Linked DNA regions of Homo sapiens. The protein of the gene in region 2 purifies or fractionates together with the protein of the main gene of each other region. This does not show direct contact. Each region holds a gene or a part of one and is shown on either strand. Other genes may lie near its edges.

Evidence for each region.
Region 1: the proteins of MSRB2 (region 2) and ALDH5A1 purify together in Homo sapiens (co-immunoprecipitation; 2 studies listed by BioGRID and IntAct, with this or other methods). This does not show direct contact.
Region 3: the proteins of MSRB2 (region 2) and BLTP3B purify together in Homo sapiens (co-immunoprecipitation; 2 studies listed by BioGRID and IntAct, with this or other methods). This does not show direct contact.

What each region holds. Positions count from the first base shown.
Region 1 is NC_000006.12:24,525,822-24,529,578, forward strand, and holds part of ALDH5A1 (succinate-semialdehyde dehydrogenase, mitochondrial isoform 2 precursor), read left to right. Parts: intron 1-2,175; coding exon 2,176-2,345; intron 2,346-3,757. UniProt on the Homo sapiens protein: Catalyzes one step in the degradation of the inhibitory neurotransmitter gamma-aminobutyric acid (GABA).
Region 2 is NC_000010.11:23,119,554-23,122,645, forward strand, and holds the end of MSRB2 (methionine-R-sulfoxide reductase B2, mitochondrial precursor), read left to right. Parts: intron 1-1,204; coding exon 1,205-1,309; 3' UTR 1,310-2,460; downstream 2,461-3,092. UniProt on the Homo sapiens protein: Methionine-sulfoxide reductase that specifically reduces methionine (R)-sulfoxide back to methionine.
Region 3 is NC_000012.12:100,059,179-100,062,935, forward strand, and holds part of BLTP3B (bridge-like lipid transfer protein family member 3B), read right to left. Parts: intron 866-3,757; coding exon 672-865; intron 356-671; coding exon 1-355. UniProt on the Homo sapiens protein: Tube-forming lipid transport protein which mediates the transfer of lipids between membranes at organelle contact sites. Required for retrograde traffic of vesicle clusters in the early endocytic pathway to the Golgi complex.

The DNA.
Region 1 (3,757 bases), on a different chromosome or scaffold from region 2:
GGAGGGGAGGAGATGAAGCTGGTTGATTCTACTTCTGCACAATTTTCTGGGTCATTCCCACCATCCCTTCTCACCACGACCACCACCAAGACACATGAGACAGCAGAGGCATTTGTTCTGGGCAGGACAGCTTTTCTGAAGAAATATAGTAGGTATCTAGGCAGACTACAGCTTCAAGAGCGAGGCTAGGTACCTCAGGGTAGGGCTCTCTCGACTTTGCCTTTTGGGGAAGGGAGCTGCCCTTATGTGAAGCCTGCAAGTTAGAATAAACCCAAGCTTAAAACAGCAAAGACCACTCATGCCACACATCCCCAAATTGATCAACCCAGTCCTTGTGTGTGTGTGTGTCCCCCAAACACACTGCTGGAGCTGAGAAGGAGCTGACCAGGTTAGTTTCGACAACTCAGTCCTTCATTCAGAAAGATGAACAACCAAGGATCATGATGGGAAAACCACCAGCACATAAGAGGAAAGGTCAGGAAGAACAAACAGAATAGTCCCTGAAGGAAGCAGATAAATTAGGGAACTGGAAGGAAATTTTCTAAAAATCTCATAGTGTCCTGCAAGAGTTTTGGGAAGATAGTACATCTGTAAACTGTTAATAAGAAGTATGTTCTAGGCTTAAAGTATAATAATAATAAAAAAAGAAGTATGTTCTAGGAAATGAAGCAATGAAAACAAAGAGTCTGTAGAAATTAGACATATGACTGTCACAAGATTCGGTACCTGAAGTAGATGATAAAATTTCGGAGATCTTATGGAGTTTAAAGCAAACTATAGAGAGGCAAAAAATATAATAGAAATGCAAAAAAAAATCAGAACTAATCTGAACTCCTGTTAATACCCGTCCAGTAGTAGGAGTTCTGGAGTGAAATAATTGGGAAAATGGAGGAAGTGACATTACCAAGTAAATAATAGATGGAAACTTCTCAGAGTTAGGGGAAAATAATTATTCTGCAGATTGAAAGATTTCACTGCTTACCAAGTAGGATGAATGAAAAGGGAATATATATATATCTTCTCTATATATATATATTCTATATATATATATCTTCTATATATATATTCTATATATATATCTACTATATATATATTCTATATATATCTACTATATATTCTATATATATATCTAATATATATATATGTGTGTGTGTATATATATATATATATATATATATATATATATAGTATTGCTAAAATTTTAGAATATCAGAGCATAGAAGATCCTAGGAGATTTCAGAGAGGAAAAAGCTATCAAGAAGAAAAAGGGTGAGAACCATTTTTGGCTCAAACTTCCTCAGCAACACCGGAAGTGGAGAAGTGCACTCAAAGTTCTGAAAGTTATTTTGTATCAGAATTCTGTACTCAAGCAAATTATCAATCAGGTGGAGTACAAAACACCAGAAACTTGGTGTATGAAAATTCAGAAACTAGACCACATCCAGTGCATCTTTTTTAAAACAACTACTTGGCCAGGCCTCGTGGCTCACTCCTGTAATCCCAGCACTTTGGGAGGCCAAGGCGGGTGAATCACGAGGTCAGGAGTTCGAGACCAGCCTGGCCAAGATGATGAAACCCTGTCTCTTCTAAAAATACAAAAATTAGCCGGGCGCGGTGGTGGGTGCCTATAATCCTAGCTACTCGGGAGGCTGAGGCAGGAGAATCGCTTGAACCTGGGAGGCAGAGGTTGCAGTGAGCCAAGGTCATGCCACTGCACTCCAGCCTGGGTGACAGAGCGAGATTCCATCTCAAAAACAAATAAATAAATAACAACTACTTGAGATTATGTGTGTCAGAAAGCAACAAAAACTCAGTTCAGGAAATAGGACAACATGGGATCCAAGAAGCTAGAAATAACCGCAGAATGCAATGAAAGCAAATCCAAGCAAACGGCTGAGCCGCAGGCCTAGAAAGAAGCGAATATATATTAGACCATTCAACAAATAGGAAGATCAAACAGCTAGAAGATATCAAAGACCAAGGAGGAAGGTGGCACTCTTGCTTCTGAATCTCTGCAAATGTGGTTCCTTCTACAAAAGGAAACCAGCATGCTTTATTGTTAACCTACTTTTTTTGAAAAAGAAAAAAAAATGGAACTAGTTATAGTTTTCTGCAGTTTAAACATTCTAAAAGATTGTATCATGTGGAAAGCTTTTTTTCTTCCTCATTACACAGGTGGAGAAACAGGTGAATGATGCCGTTTCTAAAGGTGCCACCGTTGTGACAGGTGGAAAACGACACCAACTTGGAAAAAATTTCTTTGAGCCTACCCTGCTGTGCAATGTCACCCAGGACATGCTGTGCACTCATGAAGAGACTTTCGGGCCTCTGGCACCAGTTATCAAGTAAGATCCTCCAGCCAGCGGGGAGATGGGAGGAAGAATAGAAGAGAACATAGGAAACCCTGAAAGAGATTCCTGGGCTGCTTTGAGGTCTGGCCAGGAGGCAGACAGTTGTGTTGAGTCCATTGAAGAGCAGAGTGCAATTTATGGGTTTTTAAAAAAATCATAACTTATTTGGACCATAAAATTTATCAAATTCTATTTTTTTTTTCTTTTTGAGATGGAGTTTCACTGTGTTGCCCAGGCTGCAGTGCAATGGTGCGATCTTGGCTCACTGCAACCTCTGCCTCCTTGGTTAAAGCAATTCTCCTGCCTCAGCCTCCAGAGTAGCTAGGACTACAGGCACCCACCACCATACCAGGCTAATTTTTTGTATTTTTAGTAGAGATGGGGTTTCACCATGTTGGCCAGGCTGGTCTCGAACTCCTGACCTCAGGTAGTCCTGCGTTGGCCTTCCAAAGTGCTGGGATTATGGGAGTGAACCACCATGCCTGGCCTCAAATTCTTTAATTTACTTTTTCTTACTTTCTGCTGAACTCTTTTTTTTTTTTTTCTTGAGATGGAGGATGGAGTCTTGCTCTGTCACCCAGGCTGGAGTGCAGTGGCATGATCTCAGCGATTCTCGTGCTTCAGCCTTCCGAGTAGCTGGGACTACAGGCACGCGCACCATGCCTGGCTAATTTTTTGTAATCTAGTAGAGATGTGGTTTCACCATGTTGGCCAGGCTGTTCTTGAACTCCTGACCTCAAGTGATCCGCCTGCCTCTGCCTCCCAAAGTGCTGAGATCACAGGCATGAACCACCGTGCTCAGACCTGAACTCATTTTCCTTCTTAATGTATTATACCTCAAAGGATTCTTTCATTGGCCTCCATAGGACATGAACTTTCTGTGTCGTTTTGTGGTCTTTTATCTCCCATTCACAAGTAGATAATAATTTACCTGGATAAAATTTTAGGTTCAACCCTTTGGAGATATTACTCCTTTATCCACTTTTTTTTTCTTTTTTTTGTTTTTTGTTTTGATATGGAGTCTAACTCCGTCATCCAGGCTGGAGTGCAGTGGTATGATCTCGGCTCACTGCAACCTCCACCTCCTGGGTTCAAGCGATTCTCTTGCCTCAGCCTCCCGAGTAGCTGGGACTACAGGCATGTGCCACCACACCTGGCTAATTTTTATACTTTTAATAGAGACAGGGTTTCACCATGTTGGCCAGGCTGGCCTCAAACTCCTTACCTCAAGTGATCCAACAGCCTCAGCCTCCCAAAGTGCTGGGATTACAGGTGTGAGTCACCACGCCCGGCCTCTTTATCTACTTTTATCCAGGGTTATTGCCAAGAAATCTGATTCTTGCTTCTTTGAAAGAAATCTATTTTTTCTCTTTGGAAACATTTAGAATTTCTCTTGATCTTTGATG
Region 2 (3,092 bases):
TCTTTTGTCTTCAGAACACATGGGGTTTCTTTTTTGTTTTGCTTTGTTTTGTTTTGTTTTGTTTTGTTTTGAGACAGTCTCGCTCTGTTTTGCAGGCTGGAGTGCAGTGGCATGATCTCAGCTCACTGCAGCCTCCACCTCCTGAGTTCAAGTGCCTCAGCCTCCCGAGTAGTTGGGATTACAGGTGCCTGCCACCACACCCAGTGAATTTTTGTATTTTTAGTAGAGATGAGGTTTCGCCATGTTGGCCAGGCTGGTCTCAAACTCCTGACCGCAAGTGATCCACCTGCCTCGGCCTCCCAAAGTGCTGGGATTACAGGCGTGGGCCACCACACCCAGCCCAGAACACATGGGGTTTCTACACATGCCAATAACGATCACTCTCTCCCTTCAATCTGGGCACTGCAAAAAAGAGAAAAGTCTTCTCCAGCCTCTCTCTAATGTGGCCTTTCCTGGTTCTAACCTTCCACAGAGATGAGAACAGAGGTAGGATCTTCACCTTCTTTTGAGCAGGGATAAGGAGCAGGAAGTCCTTATCCTGTCAGAGTGACTGGCATCTCATCTTTGACTTACCCAGTGTGACTGGCACCTCCATCTCTCCACCCTCCTTTTGCACCCTGCAGCGTGTCACTGGCCTGCAGAGCAATGCTGCGGGTGACGTCAGCACCTCTGCCTTCTGTGAGCCCCGTAGGAGAGAGTGGCTTAAATCCAGATCACAAATTCATTTTGATATCCTTAGCTGCTCACATTTTCTGACTCATGGGTTTTGTAAAACATTAGAGGCAAGCTGATTAAGATAGCGTGGTTTTGCCTTAAGTAATAAATAATAATAATACACTGGGTACTACAATATTATTCAGTACTTACCCAGGAATTATGTTAATGCTTTACATGTAATATATCAATTAATTGTCCCCACAGCTCTCTTATGTAGGTATGATAATTATCCCCATTTTTAGATGAGTAACTGTAAAGGCCCAAATTTAATAACTTGCTCACATCCTATTGATAAAGTAAAACTATTTACCATGACTGTGTTCTGCTTTCTTTCATTTCTTAATTGAATTCGGATGCAATAGACTTTTTCTCCTAACACAGATGTCAGACTCCGGAGTGGAGTGATTTTGGGGGGGTTCGTCTGTCTGGTTTTACATAAAGAGCTTTGTTTGCATTTGGAGATGACAGAGGCTTCTGTCCTTTGCAGTGTGAAGCTCATCTAGGTCACGTGTTTCCTGATGGACCTGGGCCCAATGGTCAGAGGTTTTGCATCAACAGTGTGGCTTTGAAGTTCAAACCAAGGAAACACTGACCATCTTCAAGAGTCCCGTTCCCTTGCCACCCCTTCACGTGCACCCTCAATTTCCACAATTCACTTGAATGACTTGTTTTATTTGCAATAAAACTGGGCTGAATTTGCTGCTGTCTCCAGCGAGTCATTGCTTCTCTTAATTTATTTACCTGGAATCAACTTAATCCTGTGTGTTAGGCTGTTCTTGTGTTGCTATAAAGAAGTACCTGATCAGGATCTGGGAGAATTTGAAAAAAAAAGAAAAACTAGAAAAATAAACAAAATTAAAAAGAAAAAAAAATACCTGAGACTGAGTAACTTATAAAGAAAAGAGGTTTAATTGACTCACAGTTCTGCAGGGTGTACAGAAAGCATGGTGCCAGCATTTGCTCGGATTCTGGGGAGACCTGAGGGAGCTTTTACTCATGGCAGAAGGTGAAGGGGGAGCCGGCGTCTCACATGGCAAAGCAGGAGCAAGAGAGAGTGGTAGGGAGGTGCCACATACTTTTAAACAGCCAGATCTCTCAAGAACTCACTCACTGTCACCAGGACAGCACCAAGCCATGAGGGATCCACCCTCATGACCCAGTTACCTCCCGGCAGGGCCCACCTCCGGCACTAGGAATTATACTTCAACATAAGATTTGGAGAGGGAAAACATCCAAACCATATCACCCAACTCCCACTTGGAGTAGAACTTCACAAAACGACAGAGGGACAGCTGTTTCCATCAAACACTTCCACAGCTTCACCTGAGACGAGGGCATGACTCTGGGAACATCAGGAGGCTGATGGACTATTAAGCCAAACAATTCCTACAAAAATTCCCTGCACCTTCCACTGCGTTTCAGTCCTTGACAGACATAAGTAAGGGATCAAGTGAGAAGAGGAAGGAAAATACAGGATCCAAGGAATCAACAATGCTAGCACTGAAGAGCAGGATTACGGAGGAGCTGTGCTCTGGGAGCATATATGGTGATCAATCAGATGCATGACTTTTTTTTCAAAATTTTAAATGTCTTGAGCATGCTACTTCCAACCATTCTACCCACAAATAAACTGCAATAGGACTTGGTTAGATTTCAATGATTATGAATAAATGTTCACCTTCATACCTTCTGGTTACAAAGCTAAACTTTAAAATGTCCAAATAAAATATTCACTAAAATTTATGTTTGCTTTTTGGCTAAGTCAATGAACATGCTCTTTTATAAAAAAAACTCTAGCCAGGCGTGGTGGCTCACACCTGCAATCCCAGCACTTTGGGAGGCCAAGGCAGGCGGATCACCTGAGGTCAGGAGTTTGAGACCAGCCTGACAAACATGGAGAAACTCCATCTCTACTAAAAATACCAAGTTAGCCGGGCATGGTGGCACATGCCTGTAATCCCAGCTACTTGGGAGGCTGAGGCAGGAGAATTGCTTGAACCCAGGAGGTGGAGGTTGCAGTGAGCCAAGATCACACCATTGCACTCCAGCCTGGGCAACAAGAGCAAAACTCCATCTCAAAAAAAAAAAAAAAAACAAAAACAAAAACCAAAAAACAAAAAACCTCTAAATTAAAAATGACAAATAAGAATTGGCTCACATGGTAGCAGGCATTTGGTTATACCAAGACTAATAGCAACTCAAGTATTTCACAAATCAAGAGTCTTGAATAATTTGTTACTGAAAGTATATAAATCATTCTCTTTGTGACTTTATGGGCAAAAAGGAAACTTGTTTATACTTTTTTTCTCTTTATGAACTTGTTATATATTATTTTACATTTCTTTTAGTAGCAACCATGGAAATTACAACATGCT
Region 3 (3,757 bases), on a different chromosome or scaffold from region 2:
GAGAAAAGTACACAGCCCAAACATCCGTGGCAGCAGAAGTTTTAAGAGTGTTTTTATTCAATTGGGGAGTAATATTTCCTTTATAAATTTCATGCATTTTGGTATCTTGTTCATGAGCATGTCTCTGGAAAATTGGATGTAGAAGATTAAAATTGTCACAAGATTTGGGGAAGCTGGTATATGTTTTACTAAAAAAATCACAATCTTTAAAGTCTTGAAACAAAGCTTCTAGGTCAGAATGTCGACAGTTTGGACAGTGCCTTGTATTTGTGGCAATCATTTCAGAACTCTGAATAGAAATTGCACGTGGCTGATCTTGATGACATTCAGATTTCACTTCAGAAGGAATGACAAACTAGAAGAGAAGAAAAATTAATCTCATCCAACTGGCAAATCCATACATCTTGAAGATAAAAGAACATGACTTAGCTCAGAAATTCTTTTTCTTGACCTTTCCCCCAAAATACTACTTTCCTATTAAGACGTAAAACACTAACTCTTCCCCTCAAATCTTATTAAATTGAGTAAAGGGGACTTACATGACCACTAAGAAGAGAATCTTTTTAAAAAACATAACATGAATTAATAATCAATGTAACATACATATACGCACAAATCATAAAATAAAAAGAACAAAATTAAATCATTACTACTACTTGTTTGTATGATACCTTTAGCATTAAGCCATCAACTCGAACATCAACATGCTCGTCAGATTTTGAATTGTCATTCAACTTGTACACAGCCATGAACTGATTAAGACTCTGTTTTAAATCCAACAGAAATTGATTTAACCATAGAATGCTTCTTTCATCCACAGTAAACTGTAGTGCATTCAGCTGGCTATAGAGGTTGGGAGATGGAACTGTGGAGACAAGATGTTTTTTAAAAATTTTTAATTGGATGGTTCTAAATCTTCCCTGAGAACAAAAAATACATGTTTAGTCAGTTTTATTCTTTCTTAAGATAAAACAAATTTGAGGTATTATTTACAAAATCAAAGTGATACATTGGAATGATAACAAACACATTTAGATAGACAAAAAAAATTTCCCATGCCTAACTGAAAAAATGTTTTAATATTTCAAAATATCTATAACATATAAATATATAAAACACATGAATATTTTGAATATATAAATTAATCTAAAACTAACTGCATAAAACAGGAAGCACTGTTTCAATTTCTTTCCTAAGGTTGTATTTACCAAGAAGCAAACCTCTAAAAACATTACCTTCTTGATGAAGTATCACATCAAAGTGGTCCTCGATCACATATTTCTGTAGACTTTACAACCTGAATCTTAATCTATATCTTCTAAAATGAGAGAGCTAAGTTAACCAATTTCTTATGAAAGTGCTATGCTAGCAGGTTCTCCTTGAAAGGAGGGACCGTGCATAAATTTATTCCCCACTTTTAATCAAGGCCTATAATAGTGCTTGGAGTAATGTAAAAACCAAGTATCTCCTGAATAATAAAATGAATTCACTCTTTCATAGCTCTCCTAAAATAAACTAATATTTACAATTAGAGGGTATATCACTTCCTGAAATATACATATTTTTCTACCATAAAAGACATTTTGTTTTCAGAGCACCTTGAAGATCTTTTATTCTAAAAATTCAGACATATTTATTCCTACAAAAGCTAAAGTTATGCATATCTAGAGCATTTAGACTAAATTTAAGAAAAATAAATCAAAGGTGTGAGATACCAGTGGAGAGGGAACACTGTAACAATGTCCTGAATATGGTTTATTTGCTTATGTTATTTATTTATTCATTCACTTTCCTTTAAGATTCACTGAATGTCAACTACATTGTCTTACCCTAAGCACAAAGAAAACAAAAAAATAGGGCATGGTCCTTTTTCCTTAAAAGTTCGTAGTTTATTACATGAGACATATACAAACAGAGAAAAATTACAATTTAAGTCTATCAGAGACATGCAATTGTGAAGTGGAGGTGCCTGCCTTTTGGGAATAGAAATAAAGTGGGTGCTGCAGAGACTGCATCACACTCTGGAAGGAAAGGAAGTAAAGGGAATATCTCAACGTAGATTGATTGATGATGGTAGTCACAGAGTAGACTAGGGAGCAAATGCTGCCCAAGACTAGAGCACAGAAAGAACCCCGATAGCAGATGTGGGACTGAAAAAGGAACCCAGGACACTAAGCAGTAGAAAGATCTATATGCAGGGCCGGCGCGGTGGCTCACGCCTGTAATCCCAGCACTTTGGGAGGCCGAGGCGGGTGGATCACGAGGTCAGGAGATCGAGACCATCCTGGCTAACACAGTGAAACCCCGTCTCTACTAAAAATGCAAAAAATTAGCCGGGCGTGGTGGCGGGCGCCTGTAGTCCCAGCTACTGGGAAGGCTGAGGCAGGAGAATGGTGTGAACCTGGGAGGTGGAGCTTGCAGTGAGCCGAGATCGCGCCACTGCACTCCAGCCTGGATGACAGAGCGAGACTCCGTCTCAAAAAAAAAAAAAAAAAAAAGAAAGATCTATATGCAGTTTCCAACAGAAGTCTACTTATAAAACAGATTAGTATGTAGTTAATAATACTTAAAAGCAGCTTGTAGAAACTTTGAATATTCTGATATCACGAAGGGAAAGAAGCAGGGTGCAAATTAAATATGTAAAAGAAATACATGCATTAAAAACAAGACTAACAATGCTATACTTATTGCTATGGGTTGAATTGTGTCCCTCCAAAATTCATTTACTGAAATTCTATCCCCCTGTAGCTCAGAATGTATTTGGAGCTAAAGCCTTTAAACAGACAATTACGGTAAAATGAGTTCACTGGGTGGGCCCTAGTCCATTATGACTCATATTCTTATAAGAACCGAACAGGAGGGACATACACACATACACAGAAGGAAGACCATGTGAAAACAAAGGGGAAAGATGACCATCTACAAAGAGAGCAGTCTCAGAAGAAATAATCCTGCTGAAGTCTTCATCTCGGACCTCTAGCCTCAGAACTGTGAGACAATAAATTTCTGTTGTTTAAGCTGCATAGTCTGTGGTATTTGTTATAGCAGCCCTAACAAATGAATATACTTACGTTTGAGCAGATATCTAAAACTGCAAGCGTACAAGCATTGTTTTGGCTTTTTCTTCTTTATTGTTAAAATACAATGTGTACGTTACTTTCACAATGGTAAAACGAAAGTTAAGAGATTATAAAAGTTGGATCATTTAGTTTTGTTCAAAACAGAGATAATGAAGAATGAAAATTAACTCATCTACATGAGGGTGCAACATACTATATTCTCTACTTTTGTTTATTTTTGAAAATTTCTCTAAGAAAACATTAAATTAAAAAACAGTTAAACTTAATCTAGCAATTCCACTACCAGGTATCTACAGGGGTCAAGTTTAAAATGCAAGGAAGGAATTTTGTAACTTTTTTCAGAAAAAAAAGTACAGATTATAGAATGAGATTATAATTCCTTTGGTACATGCTAACAAAGCTTGTATAAATAAGCCTGGATGGCTGGGAGTGTTGTCTCATGTCTGTAATCCCAGCGCTTTGGGAGGCCAAAGTGGGAGGATGGCTTGAGCCCAGGAGTTTGAGACTAGCCCAGGCAACAGAGTGAGATCTTGTATCTACAAAAAATTTAAAATTAGCTGGACATGATGGCTCATGCCTATAATCCTAGCTACTAGCGAGGCTGAGGTGGGAAGGTCACTTGAGTCCAGGAGTTTGAGACGGCAGTGAGCCACGATTGTGCCACAGTACTCCAGCCC